Regions from separate parts of the Homo sapiens genome. Here all the other regions are linked to region 1. The links come from fine-mapping of genetic effects on gene expression. A gene starts in region 1. Each other region holds a variant in brackets. All regions are shown on one strand. Distances are between the middles of the regions.

Region 1 (4,076 bases):
TGCTGTAACTCTAAGACTAGTTTTACTTACCACCTTCTCTCACAAATTAGAGCTTGCCTGTTCCTAAAAACTTTGCTTAGGGTCAATGAGCTATCTTTCAAGGTAATACATAACATTTCTCTAATGAAACCTCCAACCATCTCTTTGTTGTTCTGAAGACCACCCCAGTCTGTGTGTATGCCCTGAACTGCAATTCTGTTTTCCCAAATAAAATGATTTAGAGACTCATCTTTGCATTTTTAATTGATCTTGACACAGCCAATTCACATATATCCCTACTGTGCCACATGCCAGGCACCATGCCAAGCACTTTACATACTTTCTCATTTAACCCTTCCCACCTTCTATATAATCACCATTGGTGATGATTTTATTTTATTATTAATATTTTTTGAAATGGAATTTCTCTCGTTGCCCAGGCTGGAGTGCGGCGGCACCATCTCAGCTCACTGCAACCTCTGCCTTCCGGGTTCAAGCGATTCTCCTGCCTCAGCCTCCAGAGTAGCTGGGATTACAGGTGTGTGCCATCACACCCAGCTAATTTTGTATTTTTACTAGAGACAGGGTTTCACCATGTTGGCCAGGCTGGTCTCGAACTCCTGACCTCAGGTGATCCGCCTGCCTCGGCTTCCCAAAGTGTTGGGATCATAGGCATGAGCCACGGCGCCCAGCCAGCACCGATCACTTTTTAACACACTACATCATTGACTTATTTATTTTAGTTTTTATTGGATCTGTCCTCCCACCAGAATGTCAGTTTCACAAGGTTAGGGATCTTTGCTTCGGTAGCTGATGTATCCTGAGTCCATAGAACAGCGCCTGCACACAGTAAGTGCCCAGCCCTGGTGATGATTTTAAAGACAAGAAAAGGCAATTATAAAAGTTAGTGACCGGCCCAAGGTTTAGATGAAGTAAATGGAACTTGTGTAAGGTAACTTGAAGAACTCTGCTTACTCATGTGAACACTACCCAAGGAAGGTTTAGTACCCCAGTACTGAGGAACTAAAGATGGTGGTGGTAAGGGAGTGGGGAGGGGCATCAGTGTTTGAGTTCAACCACCACACGTTTCTTCATTTTTAAGTTCTGTCTAGCCATTATACACACATTTGTCTGCACTATAACTGGACTTCTGCACTGTTGATAGTCCTAAGTTTCCTTCAAAGCTTGGCATCCGTGTGGCTTATTTGGTAGAGATTTGAACTTTCAAAGGGACGATACCCATCATTGGGGATTTCTCTCAAACCCTGGCGGTTTAAAAACCTACTTGGGCACTGCTGCTCAGCCAGCCCGAGGACCAGGGAGGCAAGCACAGAAATAGAAAGCATTTGTAAGTGTTAGTAGCTACTTTAAAGAGTAACTCTGTTCTGTTAGACCTACTAATAACAAATTAGGAGCTTGCATTTAGCACATCTTTTTTTAAAAAAAAAACACGTTCATTTTTCTCCTATGTTATAGTGTTTTACCTGAGAGGCTGAATATACTAAGACAATGGCCAAATCTAATATAAAAATAGACCTCCAATCCACAACCTGCAGCAACCTGCCCAGAAAACCAGTCAGTTACCTACAATAACCAACCCAGGGAGCCTGCCTGCTCTAAATCAGACTTGCACTCCTCTGCCTGCCTTTTTTCTTCTCATTCGGATGGTCTTCATCTATTCCCACATACCTGGGGTGGGGAGGAAATTAGCAAAAGCAAAACCCGGGTCCTGCACGCAGGCAGCTTAAGTACGGCCCTAGGGCTCGGGTCTTCCCTAGGCAAGAACCTCGAGGGCCGGACACGGGAGTGCAACCCAGGCACGCGCCTTCGGATGGCCAGAGTAAATGGTCGCGAGATTTTGCGGGGTAGCAAGGGGCCGGGTGCCCACGGCGGGAGAAACTACACTACTCTGGAGGCGAGCCTAGCCCTTCATCCCGTCGGGTTTCACAAACGAAGCCAGAGCTTCCTGGAGTGAGGGTGGAGCTTCCTGCCCGCGCCCTCTGCGCATGCGCCCGCCCGGCGCCCGCCCGGCGACCTGGAGTTGATGTCACGTCCGGCGGCGGCGGCAGCGGCAGCGGCAGCGGCGCTGAGTTTTGTCTCCCGGGCCGTCTGGGCGCGCGCGGGTGTCCCAGGTACCCCGCCGCCTCCCTCCTTCCCGCAGGACTCGTCCCTCCTGGCCCTGGGCCCCAACGGTGCCCGCCTGCCCGGCGGTCGGTCAGCGCACAGGGCACGGCTTCCTCTGCTTCTCCCGGACCACTTAGTCTCAACCCGGGTGTGTTTGCACTACTAGAGGTGAAGCATCCATCATAGAGAGAATGGGACCTGGGGTCTTGGACCAGGGTGTTTTTACTTTTCCCATCAGGTGGACGCGCATGGGCAGGAGATATTATTTGCAGCATTTCCTCCTAGAGGACGCCTTTGTCATTGTAGTGCAATCTAAGAATGGGTGTCCTTAGACAACAGGGACCGACCAAATCGTCATGCAGCTGTTTGGATGCTTTAAAAAAATAAATCCCCACACTCATTACGCGTTTTATGCTGCTGACTTTTTTATTTTTAAGACATCTGCTCCCGAAAGCTCAGAGCCCTTTAGCATTTCATTTTCTAAACGAATCCTAATCTTTCCTGTGACTGAATCGGTTCAGAGGATATCTTTTCAATAAGGAAGGAAGCCCTCCCCTGCTCACTGGGGACGTCGCAGGGTTTTTAAACCTAAAGATTTACTCTTTTGTGCACAGACGCTGGAAGCATTTGGGTGAGGCAGTGCAGTGCTTTTTGGGAAATGCATCAGATCTTTTCTGTTCTTGAAACGCCAAATCTAACTTGGTCTTTTTTTGGATGAATTACCGCCAGTATTATGAAGGTTACTGTGAAGGAACTTGAGACCACTGAACTTTTTGAGTTCTTGCGGTAGATTTTAAATCGTTTTTCCGTCTTCAACTCTGACTTTGGGATCACTGTCAATTGGCTACATTCTTTACCCTCTTCTAGTTATAATTTAATGCGATTTATTTGTTGTGGGTTTTGAATTTCGATAGCTACACTTAATAGAATTGTGTTTAAAAGAAAGATAAGTGAGGAACTCGTGGCTTTTTACTTTTATATAACTTAATTTTTCATTTTACAAAATGCCCATTTAAAAAAAAGTAGCTAAGCAAAAGAAAGGAAATTAAAATCATCTAGAATCCTACTATCTAAAGATAACCATTGCTAACATTTTGGAATAGAGTGTTAAGTTTTAAAATACATGAAATTTGTAAAAAACAAAAAATGAAATCATAGTGTATACTGTTTGAGTATAATTTGCTTGACGTATCTTGCCTGGCTTCCATTTCACTTATTTTTTTTCTTTGCGCATTTATAATAGCTACAGAATGTTCTATTGTGCTAGGCACTCATAGGTATAGTGGGAAACCTAGTGCATAAACCTTGTGCCATCTATTTTATCAGCTCAGAGAACTTTTAACTTATATCTTGGTTTTTAGCCAAGATGCATAGGTGAGATAGTTGCAGAACTGAGTTAAAGGAAAAATTTAATATTGGGTCCTATGCAAGGGTACATCATATTGAAAAGGTGGAGAACATCATTGAAAATTATTCTAATTCTTGACTCTTTGTTTCTAGACTCACTTTTCCCCTTCGTCTTTCTCTCCCTTTCTGTCTTTCTGTGTCTCCTCCAAGAATGAAATATGACTGAGGACTCTCAGAGAAACTTTCGTTCAGTATATTATGAGAAAGTGGGGTTTCGTGGAGTTGAAGAAAAGAAATCATTAGAAATTCTCCTAAAAGATGACCGTCTGGGTGAGTACTTTTAAAAATTAATCTCATTGGTTCTCAATCACTCCACATGTTCTGAAGTAAATATTTTCTTAAAAGACATCCAGAAGCATTGGTTACTTGCTGTATTTTTTAGTGATGTGGTGAAGCAGAATGGTGTATTTTGAGAAAAGATTTTTCAAATTTATATTTCACTGAGCGTCAGAAGTTTTTGAAAGGTTTCTTAAGAAAGTCAGTAGTATTTTTTTCTTTTATTGAACCCATATGTTTTCATGTATTATCTAGGTAAATTTGCTTCTGGGTAAATTTGCGATAACTCT
Region 2 (4,000 bases), 21 kb after region 1:
TCACAGTATTGATTTGCTCACTCAACAGTTATATATTGAGTGCTTACCATGCCAAGTGATGTGCTAGGTACTGAAGAACCAGCAGTGAACAAAACAGATACAGTAGCTTCCCCCCGTGAGCTTATTGTCTGATAAAGGAAAAAGACAATACATAGTTTTAAAATGTTCACACATCTCCATCTTGTTTATTATTTGTACTGACTTTTGGATGAAATTTTCTTTGCTCTGAGACATAATATATAACTCTGTGTGTGTGTTTTCAACCAAGTCAATAGGAAAAAAGTGCATATATCCCCTTTGCAAAACCAACCAAATTTCCTTGTTTGGGAAGTTGTCTGCAGTGTTATTGAGAAATTCTAGGAACCGTTGAGCAGTATAGGGAGGTTGGATAAACAGGAAGAAGAGATATCCTGAAACAGAAAGGGGAAAGCTGGACCAGATATTATGATGTGGGCCCCTCTTTGCCTGGCTAACTCCTGTCTGTTCTTCAGAGGTCAGCTCAAATGTCACCTCTCCTGAGAAACTGCTTCTGCCTCCTACAGCCCAGGTTAGGATTTTCTCCTGGATGTACCCAACATCTTGTGCTTGTTCCCATCATAGCATCACAGCGTTACAGTGTATTGTAGTTACCTCTTTACTAGTATGTCTCAAGCTGTAAGCTCCTTGAAGGCAGGGATTTTCTCTTACCTTTCACTCCATTCATTGTGTGTAGCACAGTCTCTGACTATAGTGGACATTGTAAAGGTGATGAATCTCCTCTTTAACAGAAGCAGAGAGGTATAGATATTGAGTAAAATAAACATTACATTTGCTTAAGTGATGCGGGCCCTGGTTGTACTCCTGCAGATAGTGAGTGTGGACTTTAGGATTTGACTCTTAGAGCCCATTCTCAGCCAGTGGACCCTAAATATAGCAGCCAGCCTAAATATAGCAGCCAATGCAAGATGGATTTGGCCAGGTTTGGGGAGCTGGCTTTATTAGCTCTCCAGTCTTCTAGTGTTGGCTGCCACCTGACCTCATGAGAGAGGCTACCAAGTGGAATCCAGGTGCTTTGTTCCCTCTGAGTTATCCCTTGAATTCTAAGAAATTCTTGTGCACATTTATGTTGAATACAGAGTTCACCCTCTGGACATCCCTGTTGTGTGAGCCTGCTTGGCACTGGTGCACAGTGGTGCTCAATCCAGGGCAGTGTATGTATGGTCAGTGACTGGTCAGCCCCTTCTCATCACCATCACTTTTTGTCTTACTCTTCCTAATGCCCTCTCCCCACTCTAATCCCACTCTATTTCTTTGGTTTTACCTTTCCTCTTTCCCCCTTTTTTCCTTAGTATATAATCTGCTGCTCTAGACCAGCCAGTAATATAATGGGCCTTCCTTAGCTCCTCAGAACAACTGAATTTTGCTTTGGACTTTTGCCTTAGGCTGTTGAATCTGGCTAGTGAAGTTAGTATTAGGGTGACCAACCATTCCATTTTGCCTGGGACTGCCTCAGTTTTAGCACTGAAAGAGCCCTGTGTCCTGGGAAACTCCTCAGTCCTGGATGGTTTGTTACTTTAGTTAGGGCTGACCTAGGAAACTGCTGTGTCACAAGTGACTTGGATAATTCTGAAGTTTTGTTTTCTAATACTTCCTTGAATTCAGCATGTACTTTTTTTTCATCAGAGACTATAATATCAGATGATGTTATGACACAGAAAATGAATAATCTCTGTTCTTGCTTAATCTTTAGCCAAAAGCGTTTGAACAATACTTGAATCTGGAAGATGGCAGACTGCTGACTCATCTGAGGATGTGTTCCGCGGCGCCCAAACTTCCTTATGATCTCTGGTTCAAGAGGTGCTTTGCGGGATGTTTGCCTGAATCCAGTTTACAGAGGCAAGTA[G/A]GTCTTTCGAAGACATATTGAAGGCTTGGCGTTAGAGCAGAGTTCTGGCCTTTCATGTGGTCATCCCTCAGATTATAAATTTGCTTTAGAACAATACAGTAATTTGAAGCTCAGTCCTCCAGCAGCTACCGTAACAGCACATGATTCTGCTTATTCTTGAATATACAATTAGAAAAATTAAGGGCCCTCAGTGCGTTAGATGCTGTGAAGCAGTCACACCTCAAATGGTCTCCATGAGTTTATATAAGCGTCAGCCCCTTTTTTCCAGAAATGTGACAAATCTTCCTCCAGTAGAAATCTTAGTGTTAGTTTCATCATGATATCTTTAAAGAAGCTGAAAGCAGTCAAAGATTTGACTAAGTTCTTCCAGTCAGTTTCAGACATGTCTGGGTATTTCGGAGTCCAGGTGCCACCCATTAAGACTTTGTGATGTAGTAGAACAGTAACTCTTAAAATAAGTTATGGCACTGAACAGTGCAATACACAGAGAACATTATAAGATAATATGTAACTAAGTGTATGAAGTAGAATACCAACTTTTAGGAGTTACAGGAATGATCAGAATTATTATTTTAGAGTGGTTATAGATCAGTAACTGGCTCCTTACGCCCTTGGAGAAGTTTAAGGAGTCTGTCCCCAGAATCACTGGCAATGAAATTGAATTTATCCCATTTCATATACATCTTTTGTTGTCCCTTAGTAGGCTATAATTATATTAGCATTATGGCATATTAGCAGAATATAAACCATTAGTTTAGGATTTTCTTTTTCTTCCTCAGAAATGTCAGGTTCACAACATGAGGGAATATGATTTTGGTAGATTCCTAGTGGAGCAGTAATTTTTAGTAAACTTTCCTTTCTCCTTCTAGTGCTGATTGTATCTAGAATAGATTTCAAATGGCTTCTGTATTTTGTTGTTGTTTTGGTGATTATTTCATAAAAGTTGTTCTTTGAAGCTTTTACATAAAATTGGAGCAATTTGATTTTATTTTGTAATTTGAGATGTCTAGGCTAAACATAATTCTGAAACTCATATAATTTGATTATATCTCCTTATTTTTGTAGGGTTTGGGATAAAGTTGTGAGTGGATCCTGTAAGATCCTAGTTTTTGTAGCTGTCGAAATTTTATTAACCTTTAAAATAAAAGTTATGGCACTGAACAGTGCAGAGAAGATAACAAAGTTTCTGGAAAATGTAAGTGTGCTTTGATTTGATTTTGAATCTGGAAATGAAGTTACCTTAGCAAGTCAGATTTTCCTGTTACATTAGATTATTTCAGAGAAATAATTACATGATTTTAGAGAAATAATACCTTAGAATGTTTCAGAGAATAATTATAATAATGATTATTTTAGGGAAATTATTTAAGAGAAATAATAATTTGATTTGATTTTGAATCTAGAAATGAAGTCACTTTAGCAAGTGAGATTTTCCTGTTACATTAGATTATTTCAGAGAAATCATACAGTGTATTTTTACATTATAAGAAACACTTTTCCCTGAAAAAGTTTGGCCTAAAGTTGGCCTGAGGGTTAGTTTGCATCCTGTCTTTGGGAAATGATGGTCTGAGACCATCTCGTGAATGTGTCCACTTAGAACCAGAGTCTCATCCTCCATGTGACTATCAGCAGGCATGTCAGGAAAAGGAATAGGTGGGATCTGTCATTTTACAATGAGTAATTTTTGTCAGTTCAAAAGGGGTTCTGTATTTTGGAGGATTTTGTAAGCCATTTCATTTCTGTTACTGTCTCTGGTGTAGTCCCAGTTGGGTTTATTAATATACAGTATTAACCTAGTATATTGCTGAAAAAGGCAATGGTAATGAAATTAACTTTTCCCTCGCTATGTATCTTGGAATACCCTTTACCAGGCAAGAAGTAGGATTAAAGAGACTTATGCCTGAATGATTTTCACAGAATCCAAAATCTATTCATTTTTAAAATAGTATTAACATTTGAAAAATGGCCTGGTAAATTATAATAAAGTACTGAGTCAATATGCGTTGAATAAATGAATAATCATCATTATAACCAGAGGTGGCTAGCAGTGCGAAGCCTGTGCTAAGTATTTTCCATGGGTTACCTCATGTCCTACTGTGAACAGCTCTGTGAAGTCAG
Region 3 (4,076 bases), 190 kb after region 1:
TTGTTGCTGATATGGAGAAAGTCTAAATAGTTTGGATAGAAGATCAAACCCAGCCACAATATTCCCTTAAGCCAAAGACTGATCCGGAGCAAAGCCTAACTCTCTTCAATTCTATGAAGGCTGAGAGAGGTGAGGAAGCTGTGGAAGAAAAGTCTAAAACCAGCAGAGTTTGATTCATGAGTTTTAAGGAAAGAAGCTGTCTCCATAACATAAAAGTGAAAGGTGAAGCTGCAAGTGCTGATGGAGAAGCTGCAGCAAGTTATTCAGAAGACCTAGCTAAGAGCATTGAGGTGGCTACACCAAATAGATTTTCTTTTTTTTTTTTAGGATACGTTCATTTTATAGAATACTTTTGGGTCAAAAAACATGATGGAAAATTCCAGTAAAGTACAGTGAGAATAATGACAAGAAGCATGGAAAGCTGGAAGAATGGTATAATAATATGCAGGTTAAAAGTGGCAGCTATAATCTCACTTTTATATAAATACATGTGCAGACAAAAATATCTGGAAGGGTATACATTAAAACACTAAAGGTAGTTGTTTCTGAACAGGGTGACTTTTTTTTCCTCCACTATTTGCTTATGGACATTTTCTCTTTTTTTTTCTATTTCAAATACATTTTTATTTATTTTTTATTTTTATTTTTTCCCCTAGAGATGGGTCTCTAGAGAAATGCATTGCCCAGGCTGGTCTTGAACTTCTGGGCTCAAGCCATACCCCCTTCCCTCAGCCTCCCAAAGTGCTGAGATTATAGGCATGAGCCACCGTACCTGGCCTAAAATACGTTTTAATTAAAAAAATTAAAATGTGTTTTCCACATTAGTCTCTTTCTGTCTTTATCTCTGTCTGTCTTTGTCTCTATATATTGTCTTTACTGATAGCACTGAATTTTAAGGTCACAGCTGCTTTAAAATTAACAAAGTGATTAAGACCTGTGGGCTAAGAAACGGTTTTCTTTGACTTGCAAATGTATCCAGATGAAAAGTCTTCTCAGTGTAATAAATCGCTGTAATAATCCTTGAACACTTGGCAAATGCCTTTGATTGAGAAAAGTCAGTTGCATGAACTGGGGCTGACCTGAAGAATTACGGAGTCTGCATCCGGGGTGCAGGGCAGGTGTACAATGTCTAACAGCGACTCCGCAGGGCAGCTGGGGACGCACAGGGCTCCCAGAATGACAGGGCGGTTCCAAATACACCAGCCTCCCAGAAACGTGGCCCTGGCGATCTAAAGACCTTCAGATCCCAGGACTGCCCTACCGGATTCAGTGTCTAATGAATGGCAGGTGTTAGGAGGCAGGCAGGGGTTTCTTGTGGCAAATCCTGATTCACAGCTGGAAGATGGATTTCTGCCCTCAGGAAAACGGTTTAGTGGGAGGTGGTGAGAGTTAGCTGAAATTTCCAATAAAACGCAGTCAGAGCAGTGAGCTAGTGGGCACAGGAGAGCCTCAGTCAGTGGCTCAGTTATCTTCTAGTAAAACAATGGAAGAATTGGCAATTTTCTTCATATTTCATTTTCCTGACATGCAGGATGGTGAAGTGGCGAAGAGCCTGACTCTGGAAATAGCGAGAAGGGGTTTACGCTCTGGCTCTGTGTGTACTCGGGTAGGTTACCTAAGTACTCTATATCTCAGTTTATCAGCCCCTGAAATGGACGTAGAGTCCCCTGCCTCATGGAATTACTGTGATAATTTTTTTTTTTTTTTTTTTTTTTTTTT[A/TTA]GTATTTATTGATCATTCTTGGGTGTTTCTCGGAGAGGGGGATTTGGCAGGGTCATAGGACAATAGTGGAGGGAAGGTCAGCAGATAAACATGTGAACAAGGGTCTCTGGTTTTCCTATGCAGAGGACCCTGCGGCCTTCCCCAGTGTTTGTGCCCCTGGGTACTTGAGATTAGGGAGTGGTGATGACTCTTAAGGAGCATGCTGCCTTCAAGCATCTGTTTAACAAAGCACAACTTGCACCGCCCTTAATCCACTTAACCCTGAGTGGACACAGCACATGTTTCAGAGAGCAAGGGGTTGGGGGTAAGGTTATAGATTAACAGCATCCCAAGGCAGAAGAATTTTTCTTAGTACAGAACAAAATGGAGTCTCCCATGTCTACTTCTTTCTACACAGACACAGCAACAATCTGATTTCTCTTTCCTTTCCCCACACTTCCCCACCTTCCACTCGACAAAACCGCCATCGTCATCATGGACCCTTCTCAATGAGCTGCTGGGTACACTTCCCAGACGGGGTGGCGGCCGGGCAGAGGCGCCCCCCACCTCCCTCCCGGACAGGGCGGCTGGCGGGGCGGGGGCTGCCCCCTACCTCCCTCCGGGACGGGGTGGCTGGCCGGGCGGGGGCTGCCCCCCACCTCCTGGAGGGGGCGGCTGCCAGGCGGAGACGCTCCTCACTTCCCAGACAGGGCGGCTGCCGGGCGGAGGGGCTCCTCACTTCTCAGACGGGGCGGCAGGGCAGAGACACTCCTCACCTACCAGATGGGGTGGTGGTCGGGCAGAGACACTCTTCAGTTCCCAGACGGAGTCGCGGCCGGGCAGAGGCGCTCCTCACATCATAGACGGGGTGGCGGGGCAGAGGCGCTCCCCACATCTCAGACGATGGGCGGCCGGGCAGAGACACTCCTCACTTCCTAGACGGGATGGCGGCCGGGAAGAGGCGCTCCTCACTTCCTAGATGGGATGGCGGCTGGGCAGAGACGCTCCTCACTTCCCAGACTGGGCGGCCGGGCAGAGGGGCTCCTCACATCCCAGACGATGGGCGGCCAGGCAGAGACGCTCCTCACTTCCCAGACGGGGTGGCAGCCAGGCAGAGGCTGCAATCTCGGCACTTTGGGAGGCCAAGGCAGGCGGCTGGGAGGTGGAAGTTGTAGCGAGCCGAGATCACGCCACTGCACTCCAGCCTGGGCAACATTGAGCACTGAGTGAGCGAGACTCCGTCTGCAATCCCGGCACCTCGGGAGGCCGAGGCTAGCAGATCACTTGCGGTTAGGAGCTGGAGACCAGCCCGGCCAACACGGCGAAACCCCGTCTCCACCAAAAAAAATACGAAAACCAGTCAGGTGTGGCGGCGCGCGCCTGCAATCCCAGGGACTCGGCAGGCTGAGGCAGGAGAATCAGACAGGGAGGGTGCAGTGAGCCGAGATGGCGGCATTACAGTCCGGCCTCCGTTTGGCATCAGAGGGAGACCGTGGAGAGAGAGGGAGAGGGAGAGGGAGACTGTGGGGAGAGGAAGAGGGAGAGGGAGACTGTGGGGAGAGGGAGAGGGAAAGGGAGAGGGAGAGGGGGAGGGGGAGGGGGAGGGGGAGGGGGAGGCCAAATAGATTTTCAATGGAGACGAAATAACCTTCTATTGGAAGATGCCATCTAGGATTTCTTACGGGGGAGCAAAGAAAGCAGTTTCTTGAGATGGGAGTCTACTTCTGATAAAGATGCTGTGAACATTCTTAAAATGACCAAAAAGGATTGAGAATATTATATTAACTTAGTTGAGAAAGCAGCAGCAGGGTTTGAGAGGACTGACTCCAATTTTGAAGGAAGTTCTATTGTGGGTAAAATGCTATCAAACAGCATCACATAGTGCCAAAAAATCGTTCATGAAAGGAAGGGTCAATCAATGCTACAAGCTCCATTGTTGTCTTATTTCAAGAAATTGCCACAGCCGCCCCAACCTTTAGCAACCCTGATCAGTCAGTAATCATCAACATAGAATCAAGGCCCTCCATCAGCAAGAAGATTATGACTTGCTGAAGCCTCCGATGATCATTCACTTTTTTTTTTTTTTTAGCAATACGGTATTTTTAAATTAAGGTATGTACATTGTTTTTTGGACATGATGCTTAATGGCTACAGTGTAGCATAAACATAACTGTTACATGCACTGAGAAACACCAACATGTGTGTGACTTGCTTTACTGAAATACTCACTTTATTTCAGTGGTCTGGAACCAAGCCTGCAACATCTCAGTGGTCTCTCTAAAAATAGGAATCACCATCACTATGTCACAAACCATGACATCGTGAATAGACACTTAGTAAGCATCTGCTGCGGGCAAGACATGGAGGACAGTGGGAGA
Region 4 (4,076 bases), 62 kb after region 1:
GTATCAGATCCTGCTAGGCCTATGCTCTTTTCTCTGCAAATCATAAATACTAGTTTAATAAGCTAAGGCTGATTTAATGCCTATAATGTAAGGGTATGGTTCCAAGCACTGTACATATGTTAGTTCATTTAATCTTTATCTTAAGATTTTTAACTGAATTCCAGTTGCAAAGTCTCCTTTGCCCTGGGACGTTACATATTCATAGATCTGGGGATGAGGATGTGGACATCTTGTGGAAGGGTGGCCAATATTTTGTCTGCCATAACTATGATACTTTACTAGTCAGAGGTTGCAAACTGATGCCTGGTGCACTGGATTTGACTCTATCAGTTCTCTTTGGCATGCTCAGAGGTTACACTTTTTTCTCTTTTTTGAGACAGAGTCTTGCCCTGTCACCCACGCTGGAGTGCAGTGGCACAATCTCAGCTCACTGCAACCTCCACCTCCCAGGTTCAAGCGATTCTCCTGCCTCAGCTTCCCGAGTAGCTGGGATTACAGGTGTGTGCCACCACGCCCAGCTAATTTTTGTATTTTTAGTAGACATGCGGTTTCACCACGTTGGCCAGGCTAGTCTCAAACTCCTGACCTCAGGTGATCCACCCACCTCGGCCTCCCAGAGTGCTGAGATTACAGGTGTGAGCCACTGAGCCCAGCTGGTTATACTTTTTTTGAGCCTGAATGCCTTTAGACAGAGTGTGTGATCAAATTAGCCCTCTCCCCAGGCCTCACTTATGTAATACAGGTGAGCACGCTCACATCTGTCCTGCTTTTTTTTTTTTTTTTTTTTTTTTTTTTTTTTTTCAGATCATTCCTGGACCCCCGAGGGCCTCTGAGTTTGAGACGCTGGCTGAGATCAAATGATAAGAATTCCAATTTTTGTTTTCCTAAGTCTTTCATCTGCTAATCTACCCAACATGAACCACGGGCCACATGAAGGGCCAGACACATTCTTAAGCGGCTCACAGCCTAGAGGTGCACATCTGTGATTACAATGTGCAAGGTAAAACTGGATCAACAGTTTCCAAGGACTGGCATGTAATAAAATATCCTCAAAACAACAAGCAAGTTGGGCGTGACTTAGACTTTCACTGCCCATGTAGAAGGCACTGTACATTCTTGCAGCATCTCAGTTGGCCAGCAAGAGGTGAGTCAGAAAAAAACCATTCAGCAGCCACATGGAAGTGGGGCTCACTGGGCACAAGGCAAAACTGTGAAGAAGATAAAGTGTCTGTGGTTCTGCATTGACTCTATTCCCTGGAGTCCTCCCCTCTCGAGTTCCTAGAATTATGTTATCACTCTTGCTCTATCTCATTCCTATCAAGACCTGTTTTAGAAATGGGTGCCACAGACTCAGTTACATTCAAATGTAAACCCATTCATTCATTTAGCAAGTTACTTATTAGTGCCAGTGCTGTGTCAGGTTCTACATTAGGTACCAGAGTACAGTGATGAGCAAAACCAGTCCCTGCCCTTCTGGAACAGAGAAGACTGGAAGAGGATGGGGGTAGCCATTAATCAAACAGTCACAGAAATGAGTGCAAAATGTAGCTGGAGTAAGGGCTTCCATGGTGAGGCACTTGGTGCAGGGATCTCTGGATCTGACCAAATCAGGAGGTCAGGAAAGGCTTCCAGGAGGAAGTGACACTGTGCCCAGAGCTCAGGGATGGAAGAAGGATGCTCCTTCTGGGCAGAGAGTAAGGAGAGAAGATTGGTGGGAAGGAGGGCAGGGGCCAGATGCCGTGGGTGTGATTTGGATCTGTGTCCCTGCCAATCACATGTTGAATTGTAGTCCCCAGTGTTGGAGGTGGAGCCTGGTGGGACATGATTGGATCATGGGGGTAGTTTTTCATGAACGGTTTAGTACCAACCACTTGGTGCTGTTCTAGTGAGTTGAGTGCATTCTCGCGAGATCTGGTTGTTTAAAAGTGTGTAGCACCCTTCCCTCTTGCTCCTGCTCCTCCAATGTGAGACTCCTTGCTTTCCCTCTGTTTTCCACCATGATTGGAAGCTTCCTGAGGCCTCACCAGAGGCAGATGCCAGCATCATGCTTCCTGTGCAGCCTGCAGAACTGTGAGCCAATTAAACCTCTTTTCGTTATAAACTACCCAGTCTCAGGTATTTCTTCACAGCAGTGTGGGAATGGCCTAATA[C/G]AGATGCTTCCGGGACTTAGATCTTCTTTTTCTAGGAGCAATGTGAAGCCGTTGAAGAGTTTAAGTTTTAGGGTGTGAGAGGGGAGGAGTGAATGAAATGATCAGACTTACAGTGGAAAGAGATCATGCTGGTTATTATATGGAGAAGGGATTGGGGGAGGCAAGAGGAAACCCGAGCAGAGGCTTTGGGAGGCTTGGCACACCTGGTAAGAAATGGTGGAGGCTTGGGCGAGGCTGTGGCAGTGATGTGCAAGCTCTTAGGAAGTCAGGTAGCATATGTGAATGGACAGGAAGAAGCAGGTGTACAGGATATCTCCTTAGGTTTTCTAACTCATGCAACTAGATGGATGGGAATGCTGTTCACTGAGGCAGGCACACTGCAAGAGAACCAGCGTGTTTGTGAAGGAAGAGTGGAAGAAAACCATGAATTTGAATTTGGATCTGTTACATCAGAATGCTCCTGAGACATATGAATGAAGCTGTCATGTAGGCAGCAGGATACATTTAGCTCAGTGGAGAGGAGAGGACTAGGCCAGTGATAGAAATCTGAGACTAGTCTGCAATATAGACAATATTTGAAGCCATGAGTATGGAGAGAGTAGAGAATGGGAAGAGGCGAGGGCTTAGGATGGAACTTTGCCGAATTCCAGTATTTAATGCATGGACTAAGGAGGATGACCCTGCCATGGATTCTGGGGAGGGGAGTTCTTGGAGGTAGGATGAGGACTAAAATGTCATATCATGGAAGCAACGTAATGGGAAAGAAAATATAGTAACTAATGCTAAGGCTTTCTGAAGTGGAGTCGAAGGTTGCAAGAGGATCGCACTCACACCTGCTGAAGGTCAAACCCAGGGGATGTTCCAATAGACTCGGTCAAACAACTGAAGTCAGCATCTGCTGGCCTTCAACACCTCAGCTGAGAGTACTCTCATTAACTAACCAATCACAACGGCTTTGTGATTTAGGATTTCTGCCTGGCCAATGAACTACTTCCGAAAATAACTTTTTATGACAATCCTCTATTTTAAAAATTCTCTCCTGCAGCCTGCCTTATAGGGCACTCTTCAGGGCTGCCCTGATCCGGTGTACCCCAGCTGCCATTTTTGCTTCCCAAATAAGTGCCTTTGACCTGCATGTCAATCTTTTCGTTAACAGTAAGATGATAGGTATGGCCCACAAAGAGTTCTGAGAGCTGCTGTAAGGTTAGATGAGGCCTGAAAAAAATGCCCACTGGGTTTAGCACCATGGAGGCTGTTACTGACAACACCTAGAGCCCCTTCAGTGGCGTGGCAGGAAGAGAAGCCAGATTGGAGAGGGCTGAGGACAGGGGTGGAAAAATGGATGCACCGAAGCTGGAGGACTTAGCCACGAAGCCTGGCTTTGAAGCGGGTGAGAGAAGTAGAAGTGAAGGAGGCTGTGGTGGAATTTTATTTTATTTATTTTATTTTATTATTTTTTTTTTTTCAGAGATGGGGCCTCACTCTGGTCACCCAAGCTGGAGTGCAGTGGCACCACCTTGGCTCACTGCAGCCTCAACCTCTCGGACTCAAGTAATCCTCTCACCTCAGCCTCCTGAGCAGCTGGGACTATAGGCATGCACCACCATACCTAGCTAATTTTTAATTTTTGGTAGAGACGAGGTCTTTCTGTGTTGCCCAGGCCAGTCTCAAACTCCTGGGTTCAAGCTGTCCTCCTGCCTTGGCCTCCCAAAGTGCTGGGATTACTGTTATAAGCTACCACACCTGGCCAAATTGTATCGTATTTTTTTCTCAGATGAGGGCTCACTCTGTGGCCCAGGCTGGAGTGCAGTGGTGCAAACTCGGCTCACTGCAACCTCTGCCTCCCAGGTTCAAGTGATTCTCCTGCCTCAGCCTCCCGAGTAGCTGGGATTACAGGCACATGCCACCACACCAGCTAATTTTTGT
Region 5 (4,076 bases), 42 kb after region 1:
TAACCTGCTCCCACAGGGTTTGTGGTGGGGAGACGACTGGTTAACTTTTTGGAAAGGCCAAGCTGGCGTCTTTCTAAATGGCATGTGTGGTGGAGAGTTCCACCACCTAGAAAGACTGGAGTAACGATGGAGTCACTCCAGAAGGTGAGAGAGCTCTGCAACTGAGGGCCTGCGAGCTCTGTTATGAAGGAAATCGAAAGCTGCAATGGGCCTCGTTAGGATGCTGTTAGGGTTTAGGAGGGTCCTGGCCTCATCGCACACCCTATCCTGGGTGTCCCAGTCAGAGACACACCCACAGTCACGCTCCCTGGCATCATGAGGGTAGAGGGAGGAGCTCTCTGGATCAACTGGAGCAGGAAGGGGCACTGTGGACAGGTGTGGCTGGTGTTGGCCTGATTCTGGCACATGCCCAACTCTGGGGCTCCTTCACAGAAACTCTTCAGTGCAAAAAAAAAAAAAAAAAAAAAAAAAAAAAAAAAAAAGAGAAGGCCATGGAGTGGTTCCAAGTCCCTCAGTGGCTGGAAAGCCAGTCCTACAGGAGTGGTTTCTGGCCTGCATGCACTGGTCCTATACACAGAAGCTAAGAACTCCCAAGCCATATAATCAGCTTCAAGGCGCACAGAGAAAATAAATGTCAGCCAAGCAGTTTCTGACCCCACAGGATTCAATAGGGTCCTCCCACTCAGACTTATAAACAGCACAGGAGTACCTTAGCAATGGCTGTGTGTGTGCGTGGGTCACTCATGACACTGGACACTCTGGACACAGTTGGGTTGATTATTTGAACTGAGCATATGACATCTTTCCCCTTCTAAACCAGAGCTTCCTGAAAGGCAGCTCAGCTCAGGCAGAGGGAGCAGGATGGGTGCTCAGTGCCAGCCTTCGTAGCCAAGAGGCAGCCAGACTCCCCCAGAAATGGGCCCTTCCCTTTTGTTCATTGTGTGGGTGGTGGCTGAAAGGAGGGAAAAGCCAGGGGCAACTGAGAAGTGTTCACTCCTTCTTGGCATCAACTTCAAAGGGCCCCCAAACCAAATGTCATGTCTGGAGCCAGTACATTTGGCCAAGTGTAGAAGTCCAACCAGATCATTAGCTTTGCACAGTACCCCCAAAACAAACCCACCCCTTCAGCTTTCTTTGGACTCAGATGACAGACACTTGTGAGGAAGAGGTTTGCTGGAGACTTCATGAAGGTAGTGCCTGCTGGGCCTGGCTGGAGAGGACAAGGACCGTTCCACCTGCCAGACAGTCTTCAGTCAGGGCCCTGCTGGTGCCCTTGGCACTGCCGGGGGTTGGGATGCATTTTGGTGTCAGAAGTGGGACCAGCAGCTCGGACCGCCGAGCCATCACTTTTGCGTTTTCACACATAAAATCCTGATTGTGTTTCCTTGATTTTTCTTCTTTTTAAAAAAAAGGCAGTTCAGAAGATTTACATCGTAATGGGGAAGTGAATAAATACCAGCACTTATGGTTCTTATAAATTTATGTTTTGAAGACAGCATAGCACTCAAGAGGAATTCGACTGTTAAGGTCGGTGAAACCTAAGGAAACAAACAATTACATCAAGACCAAGGGGCTGCCAAAGGTGCAGGATTCAACAGTCCAATCTCCCATCTTCAGGGAGGTTCTTGACCGTGAGAGGGAGGTGCGAGCTTCCCACCGTCATCCCCACAGGAGTACCACTGAACACACACCTGGCTTTGAAAGTTTCATCTGGGGCAGCCCTGGTGGCCTCCACCTCCTGCCATCAGCCTGGATCCAGCAGCAAGGTGCAGAACCCAATCTGTGTCTCTGAGTCTCTAGACTAAATACTTGCTATATCCTATTTCTCTAAATGTTCCCCCCAAAAGAAAGTCAGAATTAAATCAATGGCTCTGTTGCTAACTAGCAATGCAACCTTATATAATCCTCTTAATCACTCCATGCCTCGGTTTTCCCAAATATCATCATGATGCTGGACTGTCAGGGAGAATGTCAGGGAATAACAGAAGTGGTCCACTTTGGAAGTCCCGTGTGGATGTGGTATTTTGTTCAGGTTTGGCCTCTGCTGACTGGTTGCAAATTGGCAACAATCTTTTCTCCTTGACCTAAGTTTTCACAAAAACCCACCTTGGGGTCGTTGGTAGTCTGGTGCTTATCAGACCTTTAGTTTAAATGAGTGAAACTCAGACTTTGCAGAAAGTTGGTTTTAGCCCGGGCCATCTGTGTTCCACTTCCTCGTTTCAGTAACCTAAAGTGGAACCGCATGCCTGCCTTCCTACTATCTTCCCTCTCATGGCACCCTCCAACCCACTCATGTCCCACAAGTGGGAGAGCTT[T/C]ATTTGGAGATAAATATTGCAACTTGAGGGAAAAAAAGGAAAAAAAAAACCCTTAATACTAACCTTGTTAAGTGTCTACTCAATTCATGAACTTCCATCTCAGTGCTTTTGAATTCATTGAGCTCCTTTCGGATGGCAGCCTGGAATCAACAGAAGCCCATCAATGTGCAATGGGAGAGAGACAGAAAAAAACTCCCCTTTCAGTTCATTCCTAACAACATATTTTTCTTCTTCAACAAAGACAAACAAGTTTAAGATGGATTCTTTCATTGGGAGGAAGAAAAATCACCTGAGATGTCCTTTAAAACAAAGATTCCCCTCCTTCCCTAAATCTAAGTTGCAAATGATGACAGGCTATTGCCCAAAGTGTGTTTTTCTTCCTCTTTTCATAGAGCTGTGGCATTGAGGCATCAGTGGTGGTGTACACCTACCCCACACTCCTGGGGGCCCAAGAACACATTCAATGTCAACCTCTCATCTTCCATAAATAAACAAAGCTCAGCACAGGCACAGTGATGCCTCGAGGTGGAGACTTCCAGAAGGCGTGGATCAAATTCTCCAACCAAATTAGGGGGACAGGTGATGGCCAGCTCCCTACCAACAGTTTGTTTTTGCTCTTTTACAACTTCCCTGACTCTTCAGTGATGTATTTCACCATGTGAGATACATTTTGAATAACCTCACATGTTCTGAGATGATCCCGAATCACCCCATCCTTATAATACTGCCACTGAAGACACAGGGCCTGGAATCAGACAGCAAAGAGAGGCCATGAGAGAGCAGGGGAGGAGGAGGGGCTGGTAAAGAAGGCAGCTGGGGCCAGAGACAACCTCACTCCTTCCTCAAGGGTGGAAATTGCAAACGTGTGCCTTCTTGCATAGCTCTGTCTATGGCCGATACTTGCTTTGATGGGAATATCAAGGCCCCAGGAGTTTGAGGAGAGAAAAGTCTTCCTGTAGGATCAGAATGGCCCTCCCCAGGAAAAGAAGGCTGGCTTAGGTTTAAGTGCCTGGGTAGCAGCTTTGGGGGTGGGGGCAGGGGTCACCCCATGCTTCCTGTCTTCTGTCCCCAACAGCCATTGAGAAACTGGATATGTTTTCGGCCTAAGAGCTACTCAGAACTCTATGAGGGTGCAAGTAGAGATGTCTGTGGTTTTCTTGCACACTTGCTAATATCCTTATCCTTGCAAGCATACCGCAGAGAGAGTGTGGACAGGAGAGGACAAGAGTGAAAGCCCCTTCCTCTTCGTATTTAGATGACACACTCCTGGGGAGCTGGGTTTGTCTGTCAGGGGCATGGCAATGCCAGTTCCTGGGTTGCTCCCACAAATTCCCTTGCAGAGAAGATGTGAATGCTGTGTTTACAGAGGAGGGCACAGTCTTCCACACATGGTGTCTGTGGGTTGACCCGCCACAGGCGAGGTCGTCTCTGGAAGTCTATCTGCCTCTTGCTGCTTCCGTCCCAGCCAAGTGCAGCAATGTGCCTGCATACATGTTTCCTGCACCTCCTGGATCCAGGGTTGGTGATAATGTAGCCAGCCTGGGCCATAAATGACTTCCTGCTGTATCATATAAGAAAACCCTGGGTCCCTGAAACGGACAGTGAAGGCAGGACTGTTGAGCAGAAGGCCCCTGACACACTCCATAGTTTCTATCGTTACCTACACATTGGGCAGAATCATTATTCCAGTATATATATATATATATACGTGTATCTATATATATATATATATATATATATATTTTTTTTTTTTTTTTTTTT
Region 6 (4,076 bases), 53 kb before region 1:
CAAAGACATGGAATCAACCCAAATACCCATCAGTGATAAACTAGATAAAGAAAATGTGGTACATATACACCTTCGAATACTATGTAGCCATAAAAAGGAATGAGATCATGTCCTTTGCAGGGACATGGATGGAGCTGGAAGCCATTATCCTCAGCAAACTAACACAGGAACAGAAAACCAAACACTGCATGTTTTCACTTATAAGTGGGAGCTGAACAATGAGAACACATGGACACAGGAAGGGGAACAACACACACTGGGGCCTGTTGGGGAGTAGGGTTGGGGGAGGGAGAGCATTAGGAAAAATAGCTAATGCATGCTGGGCTTAATACCTAGGCGATGAGTTGATAGGCTCAGCAAACCACCATGACACACATTTACCTATGTAACAAACCTGCACATTCTGCACATGTACCCTGGAACTTAAAATAAAATTTTTTTTTAAAAGTCTGTGGGGTTAAATGGTTACATGAAAATCCACAATTCCAACTTGTATTAGTCTGTTCTCACACTGCTAATAAAGACATACCTGAGACTGAGTAATTTATAAAGGAAAGAGGTTTATTGACTTACAGTATCACATGTCTGGGGAGGCCTCACAATCACGGTGGAAGGTGAAGGAGAAGCAAAGTCACATCTTACATGGTGGCAGGCAAGAGAGTGAGTGCAGGGGAACTTCTCTTTATAAAACCATCAGATCTCATGAGATTTGTACATTATCATGAGAACAGCATGGAAAAGAACCCCCCCCCCCATGATTCAATTACCTCCCACTGGGTCCCTCCCATGATACCTGGGAATTATGAGAGCTACAGTTCAAGATGAGATTTGGGTGGGGACACAGCCAGACCATATCACAACATGATTTCTTCACCATCATATTTGACTGGCTGCCAGATTGCATTCAATATTGTAATATATTATAATCAAGATAAGCACAGATACACAGAGCCAGATTATGGGGGTTTGGATCCTGGCTCAACCACTTACTAGGATGTGAACTTGGGCCTTGACTCTTGAGGGTTTGGCTTTGTGTGTGAAATTGGAAGGACAATAACCTCTTCAGGTTTTGGGAGGATTCAGTGAGATGATTCCTACAAAGCACTTCGCAGGTACTTGGTGGTAGTTACTGCTTCAGTCAGCAAGTTTGTGTGTGTGTGTGTGTGTGTGTGTGTGTGTGTGTGTGCGCGCGCGCGTGTGTGTTTTATTTCTCTTACTCCAGGGGGCACTTTTAGACTTCAGTGTGATTGAGCATGGTGACCTGTCTCAGGAGGAGGTGTTCATGAGAGGAGGGTGGCTGAGGGCTTGGGGGAGGAGGAGGGGAGGGGATAAACCACCTGTCCACACCCCTTCCCACTGGAGCACAAAGCAAGCCACACTTGGGCCTCTGTCCTTGTTCTCTGCATCTGACACACCTTTAGGGCATTGCAGTGTCTGAGACATCTAGACATCTCCCACATGCTCCACCCAAGTCCTGTGCAAATGTGATGAGTGGCTGATTGTCCAGGAGCCCCAGGCCAGACTTGTTCCAGCACTGTGTCCATGCAGAACCCTTTCCTGGGAATCAGTGAGTCCTTTCCATATGGAAGCATCCCCAGGATGTAGAAGGGAACCTTTTCAGCTCCGCTGGGACCCTTTTCTCAGGGGCTGGAGCCTTTATTACCTGTATCCTGGCCTCTTCTAGGGCCTCACTGTATTAGGTGGAAGAGAAAATATGAAAACTTAACTCCTAGCCCATTTCCTTGTCTGTAAAATGGGGCTGCTGCCACCTGACATCACCAAGCAGGCTGTGGGCTTCCAGCTTTTCAGATTTTGAATGAGTGTTGCTGGGGCCAACACAGATTCAGGTGCACCCAGTTTTCTGGGAGTTCTTGCCAACTGGGTTTCTGTCTTCAAAAACAGTCTGCATTATTTTTGCATATTGTTGCAAAAGAAAACAAAGCACCAGGACTCAGCCCAGCCAGCACCAGGGGCAGCATGACTGCTCTCCACCCCCAGGAGTGAGCAGTATTTCAGCCTTTCAGCCTTGGATAGCTGGGCTTGCTGAAACCCCCATCTCATTCAGCTCAGTGGTTGTCATTGGGTCCCTAGGTGAAACATTAAGCACTGTCCCTTGGAGATAAGAGGTTGTAGGAGGGAAGAAATCTGCTGGCTTCTGGGCTGCAGGAGGAAGCCTGGGCAATCTGGGGTCAGATGCTTTGTAAACATTCCCTTACACTCCCCACTTCTGTGTCTCACCTTGCCCATTTCTGAGGTTTCTGAGCTCTGTTGATAAGA[C/T]GAATTTCCCAGCGATCCTCAGCCTAGTGAGGATGGTAGCATAGACCTATGAAAATATCAGCTTGCAACCAAAAGTGAGGTTTTGTGATTTGGAAAGAGGAGTTTTAATCTACAGCCTTGCATAGCTAGCTAAGCCTTCCTTATTTCCTGGGAGCAGTTAATAATGTGTGTAGCTAAGTGCTCAGGCAACCTCTACCCTCCATTTTTCCAGCCTTGACTCCCTGTGGCCACCCCAGCCAGCCAGCAATGCCAACACAAGTCTCCGCCAGGGGTGTGTGTATGTCATAAATTGAACTTGACATTCGCTAAGCTGCTCCCGCCAGCACCCCATCATGATATTCACGTGGGCAGATCTGGGGGCTGCAGTTTTGCATTTTGTTTTCATTCATAAGAGCATCTGCCCAGGGATCCCTGGAAGAGAGCCCTACAGTAAGTGTATTCTTTGGTTTTATTTGTAACTACATCTCAGTAATAACTTTCTTCTTGCAGTAGGCCTATTCCTTCCACAAACTTTCCCATATACTATTCATTTCATACTGTCAGCAGTCTTAACAAAGCTGGCAGGACCAGATATCAGCTCTGTTTCACAGACGGAATGGAATGAGTGGCAAAGCCAGATCTAGAACCCACGTAGCTTTTGAGTCTGTATCTTTCCCATCCCCTGTGCTGCCACGCACTTACCTCCCTGCCACCAACTTGTTTTGAATTCTTGCAGCTCTAAGAGCTGACCTGTGTAGTTTTTATTTGGGTCTGTTATTGACTTGAGCAGACATTTATGAGCACTTTTCATGGGTCAGGACAGTGCCCATCTGTCCTTTCATCCTCAAAGCAGCCTGTTGAAGAAGGTGTTATTATTCCAGTTTTACAGGTAAGTGAACTAAGCTTCTTTGGGCCACATGGCTTGCAAATGCCAGGTGAGAATTTCAATCCACGTCCCCTGACCCTCATTTCACTTCCCTGTCTGACAAATCACACTAGATCTTGGGCTGCTTTACTAATAGGCACTCAGAGCTTCCTCCATGTCCAAATCAATCTTTTCAGAAAGGGGTCCAGAAAGCTTGGAAACCTGTTGTACTCAAGAGGCATTTAAATTGCCAACAACAGAAACTACCTGGCTGATTTTAGCAGAAGGGAATTATTTGAAAGGACCTTAGTTCCTCACGGAAATGTATGAGAGGCTGGGGAAGTCAGCTTGAGAAACACAAGGAACAAAGAAAGGCTTGGCAGCTGCAACCACAGTCCAGATCACACCAGAGAACCCATCAGGTGTAGACAGAGTCGGTTGCTTGCAGTGGTGCTGGTGCTGGGTGATAGAAGCCGTCATTGCATCACGGGCATCACAGCCCTAGAAACTAGATGCTGCTACCCCCACTGCCAGCACAGATCTCCACCTTCCTCCATTCTCATGTACCAGGCCAGAGTGGTGTCCCTGGTTGGCCAAGCCTGGCTGTGTGCCCATGGCTTTGCTGCAAAGGCTTCTGGGAAAGCAAACAGCTGGCGTGCCTTCTATGGGGGGAGGCTGTACCACCCACCAAGACTCTCAGGTGGGAAATTTCCCAATCACAGCAAGGAGATTCAGGGGCTGGGCAGCTCCCCAAAATCACACATCTCTACTACCTTTCCTCCCCCAAACACACAAACACTCAATTATTGCACTGTAGGTTACTTGTCAGTTTTTACGATTACCATCTTCCCACCACTCCCTGGGCCTTGGCACAGACTGCGTCTACCATTGGAGCTGGTGCAGGTGAAAGTGCTCTGGGCAGTAGCACGTTAATCATGTTTACCACCTGCTGTGG
Region 7 (4,076 bases), 33 kb after region 1:
GTAATCACAGCTCACTGCAGCCTCGAGCTCCTGGGCTCAGGTGATCCTCCCACCTCAGCTTCCCCGGTAGCTGGTAGCTGGGACTACAGACACATGCCCAGCTAGTTTTTTGCATTTTTTGTAGAGATGGGGTTTCGTCATGTTGCCCAGGCTGGTCTCGAACTCCTGGGTTCAAGAGATTCACCCACCTCGGCCTCCCAAAATGCTGAGATTACAGGCATGAGCCACTGCACCCCACCTTCTAGTGCTTTCTTTAGGGGTGTCCCCCCTTGGTGTGCTGAGGGCAGCAGAGCACCTTCCTCTGTTGTGACCAGAAGGTTTGGACTAAGTGACCCTTTTAGCATGAATGGCCTTTGGTTTTGTTGGGAGGGAGCTGGGGGCAGCACAAGCAGCTTTCCACTGGGCTCAAGAAACCTGCCTTGGCGTCTTCCTCCACCTAGGCATGATGCTGAGGCCGGGGAGGCAGCCCAGGCAGCATCTTGCCTCCCCGCACAGCTTTGCTGCTGAAATCTAAGTGACTCTACCCCGCTACTTGCTCTGAGCCAGCCGAATGTCCGGTCAAAAAAAGAGCATTTGTGCTGTCCTGTTGACTGGGGCCTATAGTAAGATTGAAACCACAGCAGAACTGTGCACACCTCTGCTGTCCAAATCAGAGATGCTTTTTGCTTCTAATATCACTCAACTACTCTCCAAACCTGAAGCTGTCACTCTTTGTCCTTCCCCTCCTCCCCACTCCAATCAGTTACGTTCGGCACCTGCAGGGTTTCCGCTCATGCATAGCTAGCTGATTCCTGGAGGGCAAAAACCATGTCTTTACAGTGAACTAAAAATATCAAGAGACGCACTTACCTCCCCGCACAGAGGGGGGTCACTAGGGAGACCTGAACTAGGATGGCTCAATTGGAGCCTCTCACTGTTTGGCCCAGTGGGTCTCCGTTTTTCTGCCCAGCTGCTGGACAGCCTGAAACATGCCTGCCTTTCCTTACTGTGGCCGGTTCCTGGATTTTAAAATTGGGTATGATTGAAATAAGGTCGTCTGGGTGTGCATGTTACACGCAAGTTAAATTTCCCTGTTCGAGTTTTGTCCTACAAAAGGCAGTCAGCCCTGTGTGTTCTTTCTGGTCTTCTTATTTTAAAAAAATAATTGTAACTAAATTTTTGATGGAAAAGGAACATGTGCCAATAGAGGGGAAAGGCAGCCAGGACAAAAGGGTCTACAGTGACCGGTGGCTGTTCTCCGTGTCCCAGCCCCAAGGACCCTTCCTCAGCACCAACTCCTGGAGTCTAACAATGAGCGTGTTATTTCAGGTACTTTTCTAGGAAGAAAGAGGGGATTTGTCCTGCCTGCTTTGGGGCTGTCATCACCAAGTCAGTGAGATGGAATTGAGGAAAACCCAAGGTGGCTCAGCTGCCACAGGGGCTCCTGCCATGATTGCGTGGATGCTGACGAGCGGGCTGGGGGCATGGGGGAGTGGGGCTCGCCCAGGTGACAGCTCATATTCTAATGGTGGCTTGGAAAATGTCCCCACCACCCCAGCGACAACGCAGCACACAGTCTGAACAAAGCCAGCCTCTTGCCAGATGGCATTTTTGCTATTTTAACCCCAGGGCCTTGCAGAGCCGGTACGCTGGGGCTTCAGTGAGGCGGCCAAGGCCTTCCAGGAGGCTCAGGTGTTGAGCCATAAAGCCCCAGATGTGCTTCATGCATGACGGCCTCGGTCGCACAGTGGCAGGCCTGCCACACTGCGGGGACTGGCCACAGGGTTGCTGCGTGAGACCAAAGCCTTTACTCTGATGCCGTCCCTGGTCAGGACTGTCTGAGATAAGAAGTTCAATCCATGTGTGAAGTGTTTTTTTACCTGTGTAGCTGAAGACTGGCTTGTCCTCTTCTGGGTGGGGGCTCTGAATGGACCCCAGGACCATGGACCCCAGGGACCCCCCTGCCACACTGGACAAGGTGTCAGTGACCACTCCAGGTTGGTGATTGGTGATTAAGGAACAGACAGCATTTTCCTCCCTCCCTCTACCATTTCTCTTTCTCGTTTTTGTTTTGTTTTGTTTTGTTGATTAAAGGTAGAACAGCAATGGTATCTCCACATAGGAAACACCAAGCCTTTGTGACCACATGAGCCGCAGCGTCTTCATCATGGATGAGGAGGGGAACCAGTTCTGGAATTCTGGCTCAGGGTAG[A/G]TGCATCTTAACGGAAGAAGAATTAGTCAATTCTGTTTCCGTGGTTTACTCTTCCTGTCTCCTGCAGATGAATTCATTAGTTTAATTAATGAGAGCCCTTTGCCTTCCTCTGCAGTGTTGCCCATGGAAATAGTGGATGATCATGGCTCCCTATTATGAAATGTGGAGAGCATTATTTGATTAGGAGCAGAACCCTTTTCCCCCCCAGAAAATAGCCTCTAGGTAAGGGACTGGACGCTCACACACGATGAAGTGTCTGGTGTTCTTCTCTCTCATTAGGTAGCATGCCCTTCTCTTCCTGCCTTTGCAACAGCTCTAGGTAGGACCCACACTGTACAAGTGCCTCATTCGTGACTTCTGCTTCCCTTGCAGGAAGGCATAAATGTTGGCTGACTGTCAAATGCTTGTGGGAGGTCCCCACGGAGTGGAGAAGCGGGAGACTCAGCTTAATCACAGACAAAGTTGTGCATGAGAGGTGAGAGGGAGGAGCTGGAAGCCGGGGCTTGGAGGCAGTCCATGATCTTTCCGTCTGTGATCCTCAGTGTCAGAAAACTATGTAATCACTCAAGACAGGCAAATGGGATAACTGGATGGATGCTGAGGAAGTGTGAACTCAAGAAGGTAGAGGGAAAGCCACGACACGTCAGCGTAGCAGGGAGGTTAAGGGCATTGCCTTAGAGTCAGGCAGACCTGGGTTTGGAAGCCCCTCCGCCACTTACCATCTGTGTGACTTTGCCCACGTTGTTGTTTGGGGACCTGAGTTTCCTCATCGGTGACCAAGGTGTCGTAAGGGTTAAAGAAAATGGTGCATGAAGATGGCCTAACAGAGTGCCTGGGGTACGGTAAGTGTTTACTGTGTGGGAGCTGTTAGTGGTGCTGTTGGTAGGGATCAAGTGACCAGGTAGCCAGAGTTAGAAATCAGGGCCGCCACCTGCCAGGTGTCAGAAGAGACAGCTATTTGTTCATACTTTTTTTTTCTTTGTATGCTTCTCATTGAGTTCCAAGGTTGCCTACATGAGACCTCTCTTGGACTCCTTTCAGGAAAGCTTAGTTGCTCAGTGCCCGAGGGCCCTTGTTAAACCCTGATTGTCCCTGAGGTGGTCACCACAACATGGCCACATCAATAGCATCCCTCACAGGACTCCCAGGTCACACGCACCAGAAGGGTCTGCTTGGGAAGCCTGAGCAGAGTGATGTAGCAGGGGACAGGAGGTGAGGCTGGCGGAAGTGAGCAAGGGCCACACTGTCACTACGGATGCCACACTGCAGAGTGGGGCTTGATGGGTAAGACAGTGGAGGCAGGTACCAAGAGGGAGGGTGGGGTGAGCCCATCTGAGTTGGGAGACATGACTCTCATGGCAGGACTGGATGCTGAGGCCACAGGCAGAAAGATCATGGCTGCCGTCATCCAGGTGGGAGAACCTTTTTCAAAAATTAGTATATCTGTATTTTATTTTATTATTTATTTATGTTTCAATAGCTTTTGGGGTACAAGTGGCTTTTTATTATTTTTTGGAGACAGAGTTTTGCTCTTGTTGCCCAGGCTGGAGTGCAGTGGCACGATCTCAGCTCACTGTAACCTCTCCCTCCCGGGTTCAAGTGATTCTCCTGCCTCAGCCTCCCAAGTAGCTGGGATTACAGGCACCCACCACCACACACAGCTAATTTTTTCTATTTTTAGTAGAGATGGGGTTTCACCATGTTGGCGAAGCTGGTCTCGAACTCCTGACCTCAGGTGAGCCACCTGCCTCGGCCTCCCAAAGTGTTGGGATTACAGGTGTGAGCCACTGTGTCCGGCCTCACAAGTGACTTTTTGTTACATGGATAAAATATATAGTAGTTTATTCTGAGATGTTAGTGCTCCCATCACCTGAGTAGTGTACAT

The links.
Region 2: its variant is fine-mapped to the expression of TBC1D7 in whole blood (TOPMed, PIP above 0.99).
Region 3: its variant is fine-mapped to the expression of TBC1D7 in whole blood (INTERVAL, PIP above 0.99).
Region 4: its variant is fine-mapped to the expression of TBC1D7 in whole blood (TOPMed, PIP above 0.99).
Region 5: its variant is fine-mapped to the expression of TBC1D7 in whole blood (TOPMed, PIP above 0.99).
Region 6: its variant is fine-mapped to the expression of TBC1D7 in whole blood (TOPMed, PIP above 0.99).
Region 7: its variant is fine-mapped to the expression of TBC1D7 in whole blood (TOPMed, PIP 0.99).

What each region holds. Positions count from the first base shown.
Region 1 is chr6:13,326,491-13,330,566 of GRCh38, reverse strand. TBC1D7 (TBC1 domain family member 7) reads left to right here and starts at 2,030. Exons shown (of 8, transcript NM_016495.6): 1 at 2,030-2,271; 2 at 3,661-3,780. The coding sequence starts at 3,669. It overlaps TBC1D7-LOC100130357 (TBC1D7-LOC100130357 readthrough), which reads left to right and starts at 2,030. Exons shown (of 9, transcript NM_001318809.2): 1 at 2,030-2,111; 2 at 3,661-3,780. The coding sequence starts at 3,669. It overlaps LOC124901261 (a long non-coding RNA gene), which reads right to left and starts at 1,952. Exons shown (of 2, transcript XR_007059457.1): 1 at 1,669-1,952; 2 at 710-842. RefSeq lists an enhancer at 1,685-2,191 and a silencer at 1,825-2,214.
Region 2 is chr6:13,305,475-13,309,474 of GRCh38, reverse strand. It overlaps TBC1D7-LOC100130357 (TBC1D7-LOC100130357 readthrough), which reads left to right. Exons shown (of 9, transcript NM_001318809.2): 6 at 1,730-1,875; 7 at 2,948-3,077. It overlaps TBC1D7 (TBC1 domain family member 7), which reads left to right. Exons shown (of 8, transcript NM_016495.6): 6 at 1,730-1,875; 7 at 2,948-3,077. Among named protein-coding and RNA genes, the nearest start is that of TBC1D7, 21 kb to the left of the region's middle. RefSeq lists an enhancer at 1,035-2,234. The variant G/A (reference allele first, on the strand shown) is at 1,883.
Region 3 is chr6:13,132,439-13,136,514 of GRCh38, reverse strand. The region is part of intron 5 of PHACTR1 (phosphatase and actin regulator 1); the gene reads right to left. Among named protein-coding and RNA genes, the nearest start is that of TBC1D7, 190 kb to the left of the region's middle. The variant A/TTA (reference allele first, on the strand shown) is at 1,720.
Region 4 is chr6:13,264,564-13,268,639 of GRCh38, reverse strand. The region is part of intron 10 of PHACTR1 (phosphatase and actin regulator 1); the gene reads right to left. TBC1D7-LOC100130357 (TBC1D7-LOC100130357 readthrough) reads left to right here. Exons shown (of 9, transcript NM_001318809.2): 9 at 805-2,104. Among named protein-coding and RNA genes, the nearest start is that of TBC1D7, 62 kb to the left of the region's middle. The variant C/G (reference allele first, on the strand shown) is at 2,151.
Region 5 is chr6:13,284,525-13,288,600 of GRCh38, reverse strand. It overlaps PHACTR1 (phosphatase and actin regulator 1), which reads right to left. Exons shown (of 15, transcript NM_030948.6): 14 at 2,379-2,455; 15 at 764-1,538. The coding sequence ends at 1,523. The region is part of intron 8 of TBC1D7-LOC100130357 (TBC1D7-LOC100130357 readthrough); the gene reads left to right. All of the region lies in intron 3 of LOC100130357 (a long non-coding RNA gene), which reads left to right. Among named protein-coding and RNA genes, the nearest start is that of TBC1D7, 42 kb to the left of the region's middle. The variant T/C (reference allele first, on the strand shown) is at 2,316.
Region 6 is chr6:13,379,026-13,383,101 of GRCh38, reverse strand. The region is part of intron 1 of GFOD1 (Gfo/Idh/MocA-like oxidoreductase domain containing 1); the gene reads left to right. Among named protein-coding and RNA genes, the nearest start is that of TBC1D7-LOC100130357, 53 kb to the right of the region's middle. The variant C/T (reference allele first, on the strand shown) is at 2,278.
Region 7 is chr6:13,293,386-13,297,461 of GRCh38, reverse strand. All of the region lies in intron 8 of TBC1D7-LOC100130357 (TBC1D7-LOC100130357 readthrough), which reads left to right. It overlaps LOC100130357 (a long non-coding RNA gene), which reads left to right and starts at 1,876. Exons shown (of 5, transcript NR_160971.1): 1 at 1,876-1,976; 2 at 2,074-2,187; 3 at 2,564-2,666. The variant A/G (reference allele first, on the strand shown) is at 2,192.